Regions from separate parts of the Homo sapiens genome. Here region 2 is linked to region 1. The links come from fine-mapping of genetic effects on gene expression. A gene starts in region 1. The other region holds a variant in brackets. All regions are shown on one strand. Distances are from middle to middle.

Region 1 (2,907 bases):
GGCTCAAGACCATAAGTAATTATCAAATACTTAGGAAGCGACGGGTTTTGAGTATTTATTACCTTTTAAAAATGTACTTTGTGGCTAGGCATGGTGGCTCACGCCTGTAGTCCCCGCACCGGGAGGCCGAGGTGGGTGGATTGCTTGAGCTCAGGAGTTCAAGACCAGCCTGGGCAACACGGCGAAACCCAGTCTCTACCAAAAATACACACACACACACACACACACACACACACACACACACACACACACAAATTGGCCTAGCGTGGTGTCGTGTGTCTGTGGTCGCAGTTACTCAGGAGACCAAGGTAGGAGGTAGGAAACCAAGGTAGGAGGATCACCCGAGGTCGGTAGTTCGAGACCAGCCTGACCAACATGGAGAAACCCTGTCTTTACTAAAAATACAAAATTAGCTGGGCGTGGTGGTGCATGCCTGTAATTCCAGCTACTTGGGAGGCTGAGACAGGAGAATGGCTTGAACCCGGAAGGCGGAGTTTGCGGTGAGCTGAGATCGCGTCATTGCACTCCAGCCTGGGCAACAAGAGCAAAACTCCGTCTCAAAAAAAAAAAAATATATATATATATGTGTGTGTGTGTGTGTGTGTGTGTATGTATATATATATATGTATGTGTATATATATGTATGTGTGTGTGTGTGCATATATATATATACACTTTGTTTAATTGTAAGTGTGTTTAGTTTAATTTTTAATAATGTCCGTGATTAACAGCTGGCTGGCAAGATTCCTGAGAACTGAAGAGTTTGCCCCAGCCCATCCAGCACACCATGGGCCCAGGGCAGACCTTGGGGCTAGGCGGTCTTGGGTTCCAGAGGGCTCCCATGCCCCTGTCCTATTGCTCTTCTGGCAATAGGACATTTACGCGGGGGGGGGGGTGGTTCTTGATTCTGGGTCTTTTAGGGGACTCTGTGATTAAGAAACAGCAGGGATGTTGCAACAGCAGGGATGAGGTGGGCCTGGGGACGGGTCAGTGAAGGGTCTTCATTCCTAGCTGCTGACCTGATCTGCCCTGAGATAAAAGACTAAGACCCAGAGAGTGAACGCTGTCCGCGGGGGCAGAAGCGAGTGAGGCGTCGGGACAGTGGGGCATAACCAAGAGCAAAACGCAAACTGAGACTTCAGCGCCGGTTTCTCGGGCCAGCCCACGCCTCCTGCCTCAGCTCAATGCCACTCCCTCCCCGCCAAGTGGCTCTCCGCTCTGGAGGCGGGACCGAGTTCTCCGGTGGCCCCTGGAGGCTCCGGCAGCGAGCTCTGGGAGGCTGGGAGGGGAGTGAGGGGAGGGGCGCTGACTGGGCCGTCCAAAGAGGAGGGGGCCTTTAATAGGCTCGCCCAGCGCCTGGCTTGCTGCGCTGCGAGTGGCTGCGGTTGCGAGAAGCCGCCCGGCACCTTCCGCTAGTTCTCGGCTGCAAATCTTCGTCCTTGCACTTGACAGCGATTGTACTTAAGCTCCCAGGGCGCGCTTTGCTTGGAAAGGCACAGGTAGGAAGCGCGGGCTGCCGGGTGCACGCTCGCCGCCCTGGGAGGAGTCTCCCTCCCTTGGCTCTCCTTTCTGGGAACTGCCGGCTGTCCCGTAGCGTTGGCGGTTCCAGAGTGCGGGCTGCACGGAGACCGCGGCAGCGGCCGGAGAGCCCGGCCCAGCCCCTTCCCACAGCGCGGCGGTGCGCTGCCCGGCGCCATGCTTCTGCTGGGCATCCTAACCCTGGCTTTCGCCGGGCGAACCGCTGGAGGCTCTGAGCCAGAGCGGGAGGTAGTCGTTCCCATCCGACTGGACCCGGACATTAACGGCCGCCGCTACTACTGGCGGGGTCCCGAGGACTCCGGGGATCAGGGACTCATTTTTCAGATCACAGCATTTCAGGAGGACTTTTACCTACACCTGACGCCGGATGCTCAGTTCTTGGCTCCCGCCTTCTCCACTGAGCATCTGGGCGTCCCCCTCCAGGGGCTCACCGGGGGCTCTTCAGACCTGCGACGCTGCTTCTATTCTGGGGACGTGAACGCCGAGCCGGACTCGTTCGCTGCTGTGAGCCTGTGCGGGGGGCTCCGCGGAGCCTTTGGCTACCGAGGCGCCGAGTATGTCATTAGCCCGCTGCCCAATGCTAGCGCGCCGGCGGCGCAGCGCAACAGCCAGGGCGCACACCTTCTCCAGCGCCGGGGTGTTCCGGGCGGGCCTTCCGGAGACCCCACCTCTCGCTGCGGGGTGGCCTCGGGCTGGAACCCCGCCATCCTACGGGCCCTGGACCCTTACAAGCCGCGGCGGGCGGGCTTCGGGGAGAGTCGTAGCCGGCGCAGGTCTGGGCGCGCCAAGCGTTTCGTGTCTATCCCGCGGTACGTGGAGACGCTGGTGGTCGCGGACGAGTCAATGGTCAAGTTCCACGGCGCGGACCTGGAACATTATCTGCTGACGCTGCTGGCAACGGCGGCGCGACTCTACCGCCATCCCAGCATCCTCAACCCCATCAACATCGTTGTGGTCAAGGTGCTGCTTCTTAGAGATCGTGACTCCGGGCCCAAGGTCACCGGCAATGCGGCCCTGACGCTGCGCAACTTCTGTGCCTGGCAGAAGAAGCTGAACAAAGTGAGTGACAAGCACCCCGAGTACTGGGACACTGCCATCCTCTTCACCAGGCAGGTGAGTTGATCTGCCGTCACTTTGCACCCAGATAGTCCCGTTCTTTAGGGTCACCTCCCCTAGCGCTCCAAATCCCCTTTGTATCGTGCAATGCCTCCGAGTTTAAACCTCGTTGATCTCTTCCGACTCCAACTCTGTGGAGTTTCCAGGGAGAGCCCTCTCCCACGCTCCGCGGAGCGGCGGCTCACGTGCATCTGGGCCATTGGAGGAGAGCCTGCGCTTTCCGAAGGTGTTGGCCTGGCGCGGCCAATCAGC
Region 2 (2,907 bases), 71 kb after region 1:
TGGCTGGTCTTGCATCAGTTAAACTCTTTCTTTATTGCAATGCCATGGTTTTGGTGAATTGGTTTTGTCTGTGTGATAGGCAGGAAGATCCCACTGGGCTATGTCTTCTCTCTCCATTGGATGGTTGGATTCTTATAGATAGAATAGTTGGTTCCTTATAGACAGGAAATCTTTCTTTTTGTTCTCCTCTTAGTGCCCAGGGCTGGGTCATGCATATAGTGATATCTATGGATAACTTAAAGAACGTCAGAAACGGCCTCCTCCTAGAACCAAGTTTTTGTGGGAAGACAAACTAGAGAACAGCTGAGTGATTTTCCACAAATTCTTCTATTTCCCAGCAATAGCTTCAAGATCACATCTCTCCTATCCTCTACCCCATGTTTCCCAACACAGAGTTCTGGGTTTGCAGAAACCCAAAGGATTAGGGGACCCCAGGGTCCAAGGAGGTAGCAGAAAGCTGTGTTTCGGCATTCTGGAGCTTGATGCTGGGAGTATAAACATCCTTGCCAGACAAAATATTGGCCCCAGAGCAAAGGCTGGTGGCCACCTTGGCCTTCTTTGCCATTCAGGCCTGGTATCTGCAAGTAGCCCTTTCCTAGCCAAGAACAACAAGCCATGGCTTAGAAGGAACGACATGTGTGAGTATGTGTAAGAGTGCAGAGAAGGCTGAAGGGGAGGGGAAGAGGTGGGGCCAAAGCTTCATACAGGTTGAACCTCCAAGTTTGGGTAGAAGTGGAGATATGGGAACTGCATGAACATGTTTTTAGCTATGGCATTCTTCCTTCAAACTAAAGTTTACTTAGTTTGTACATAAAACAAACCAAGGTGGAGCCGCTCAGGGTGAACCTGGGGCTGAGAGCGGACCGTGGAATCTCCACCAAGCACACGGCCAGAATTGCTGGCATCACAGACCTCATTCTTCTTGCCAAAAAAGGAGGGATATTAGTGGGTTTTTTTTTCTGTTTTGTTTTTGTTTTTGTTTTTTTTTTCTTCCTAAAATTCCTAGAATAGATAGTACTTGACATTTAGCGTGCACTTGGGTTTCCCCATCTTTCCAGGGGGTTATGCAACCTGAAGGTCACATTCCTGCTTTAGGCTCCGGTCTCTCCCTTCTGCTATAGCACAACGCGTCTGAGTGTGATGGCGAGTGGATGGAAGGTTCTGCAGGCTCAGAAAAAGACTGTTAAGTGGGCCATGTACTTAACAGCATTGTTTTTGTCTGGGGTGGAGGCAGCAGGATACCCCGAGAGGGACTGTTGTGTGTATCATGGTGTGTGAGGTGTAGCGATCTGGGTGTCTGTGTGAGGCCTGGTCTCTCCCTTCTGCTATAGCACAACGCATCTGAATGTGATGGTGAGTGGATGGAAGGTTCTGCAGGCTCAGAAAAAGACTGTTAAGTGGGCCATGTACTTAACAGCATTGTTTTTGTCTGGGGTGGAGGCGGCAGGATATCCCGAGAGGGACTGTTGTGTGTATCATGGTGTGTGAGGTGTAGCGATCTGGGTGTCTGTGTGAGGCCTGGGTGGAGGCCTGTGCACGTCTTCTGTGTGTGGTCTTTCCAGCCTCACACTCACGGAAAGCTCTGGTTTGGATGTCACTCTCAGCATTAGAGGCCTTTGGGCTGCTTCCAGCGGAGCTGGTTGGTGTTGAAGGATTATGGGTGATGGCTGTGGGAATGGCACC[G/A]CCTGCCTGGCCTTGGAGGTGGCTGGTTTCCTCTGTATCCCTGGGGGTGGGCAGTGGTGTCACAAGCTGTGTGGGAAAGGAGGGCTACTCGGGGTGGAGCACAGGACAGCTTGGGTGTTGCCTGGGAGGCGTCAGGGAGGAAGGCAGACGTGGGAGTCTTGGGGAATAAGGAGAAAAGGGTTTGAAAACCAGGATAAGGCATTTATCCAGCACTTGGCTGTCTTTATCTCTTAAAATTAAAGCCAGGCCTCTCCTGGAACGTTCCACTTGGGATTCTGCTGGGAAATTAAAAAGACTGGGGAGGGGTGAGTGGTGAGTTGGACTTTTCTGCCTCAGTTGATTGTATATGTGCTGGGTAGGGTGACCCAGAATTTTGGTATTTATTCATTCATCAGTTAGTTTTTGAGTGTCTGCTGTATCCTAAACACTGACTTAAGAGATATGTAAAATAGAAGTCATGATCCCTGCTCTAAAAGAGCTCACTGTCTAGTGGAGAATGCAGACAAATAGACAGATGATCATATGATATGATAGCATCTTCATTTATTCATGCTGAAAAAATCAATAGTTTATATACTATTGATATAATATCCTTGGAGCTATATATATGTGTATATATATGTGTGTGTGTGTATGTGTATATATACATATATATATATATGGTATATATATAAATGGTGTATATATATATATATATATATAAAATTCTCACATGGCTATAAAGGACTACCTGAGACTGGGTAATTTATAAAGAAAAGAGGTTTAATTGGCTCATGGTTCTGTGGGCTGTATGAGAAGCATGGCTGGGGAGGCCTCAGGAAACTTACAATCATGGCAGGAGGTGAAGAGGGAGCAGGCATGTCTTATATGGCCAGAAGGAGGAAGAGTGTGAAGTGGGAAGTGGCACCCACTTTTAAACAACCAGATCTTGTGAGAACTCACTATCAGGAGAACAGTAAAGGGGAAGTCTGCCCCCATGACCTAATTACCTCCCACGAGGCCCCTCCTCCAACACTGGGGATTACAATTCAGCATGAGATTTGGGTGGGGACATAAATCCAAACCCTAACAAGGACAATGGCAAAGCACTTGGAGAGACATACGTAAGATATACATTATATATACAGTACTTGGGTATATGTCATATAGAATACATATGTAATCTTCAAGTGCTTTGCCATTGTCCTTGACATCTACCAATTCAGATAATCTCTGCAACAACCT

Which allele goes with the higher level. Positions count from the first base shown, and alleles are read on the strand shown. Sizes are in standard deviations (SD) of each study's normalised expression.
For the expression in pancreas of the gene that starts at base 1,367 in region 1, allele A in region 2 goes with a higher level than allele G (large effect, 1.1 SD a copy in GTEx).

Evidence for each region. PIP is the estimated chance that this variant, and not a neighbour inherited with it, causes the effect.
Region 2: its variant is fine-mapped to the expression of ADAMTS15 in pancreas (GTEx, PIP above 0.99).

Annotation. Positions count from the first base shown.
Region 1 is chr11:130,447,279-130,450,185 of GRCh38, forward strand. ADAMTS15 (ADAM metallopeptidase with thrombospondin type 1 motif 15) reads left to right here and starts at 1,367. Exons shown (of 8, transcript NM_139055.4): 1 at 1,367-2,652. The coding sequence starts at 1,696.
Region 2 is chr11:130,518,701-130,521,607 of GRCh38, forward strand. No RefSeq gene overlaps it. Among named protein-coding and RNA genes, the nearest start is that of ADAMTS15, 72 kb to the left of the region's middle. RefSeq lists an enhancer at 1,188-1,689. The variant G/A (reference allele first, on the strand shown) is at 1,684.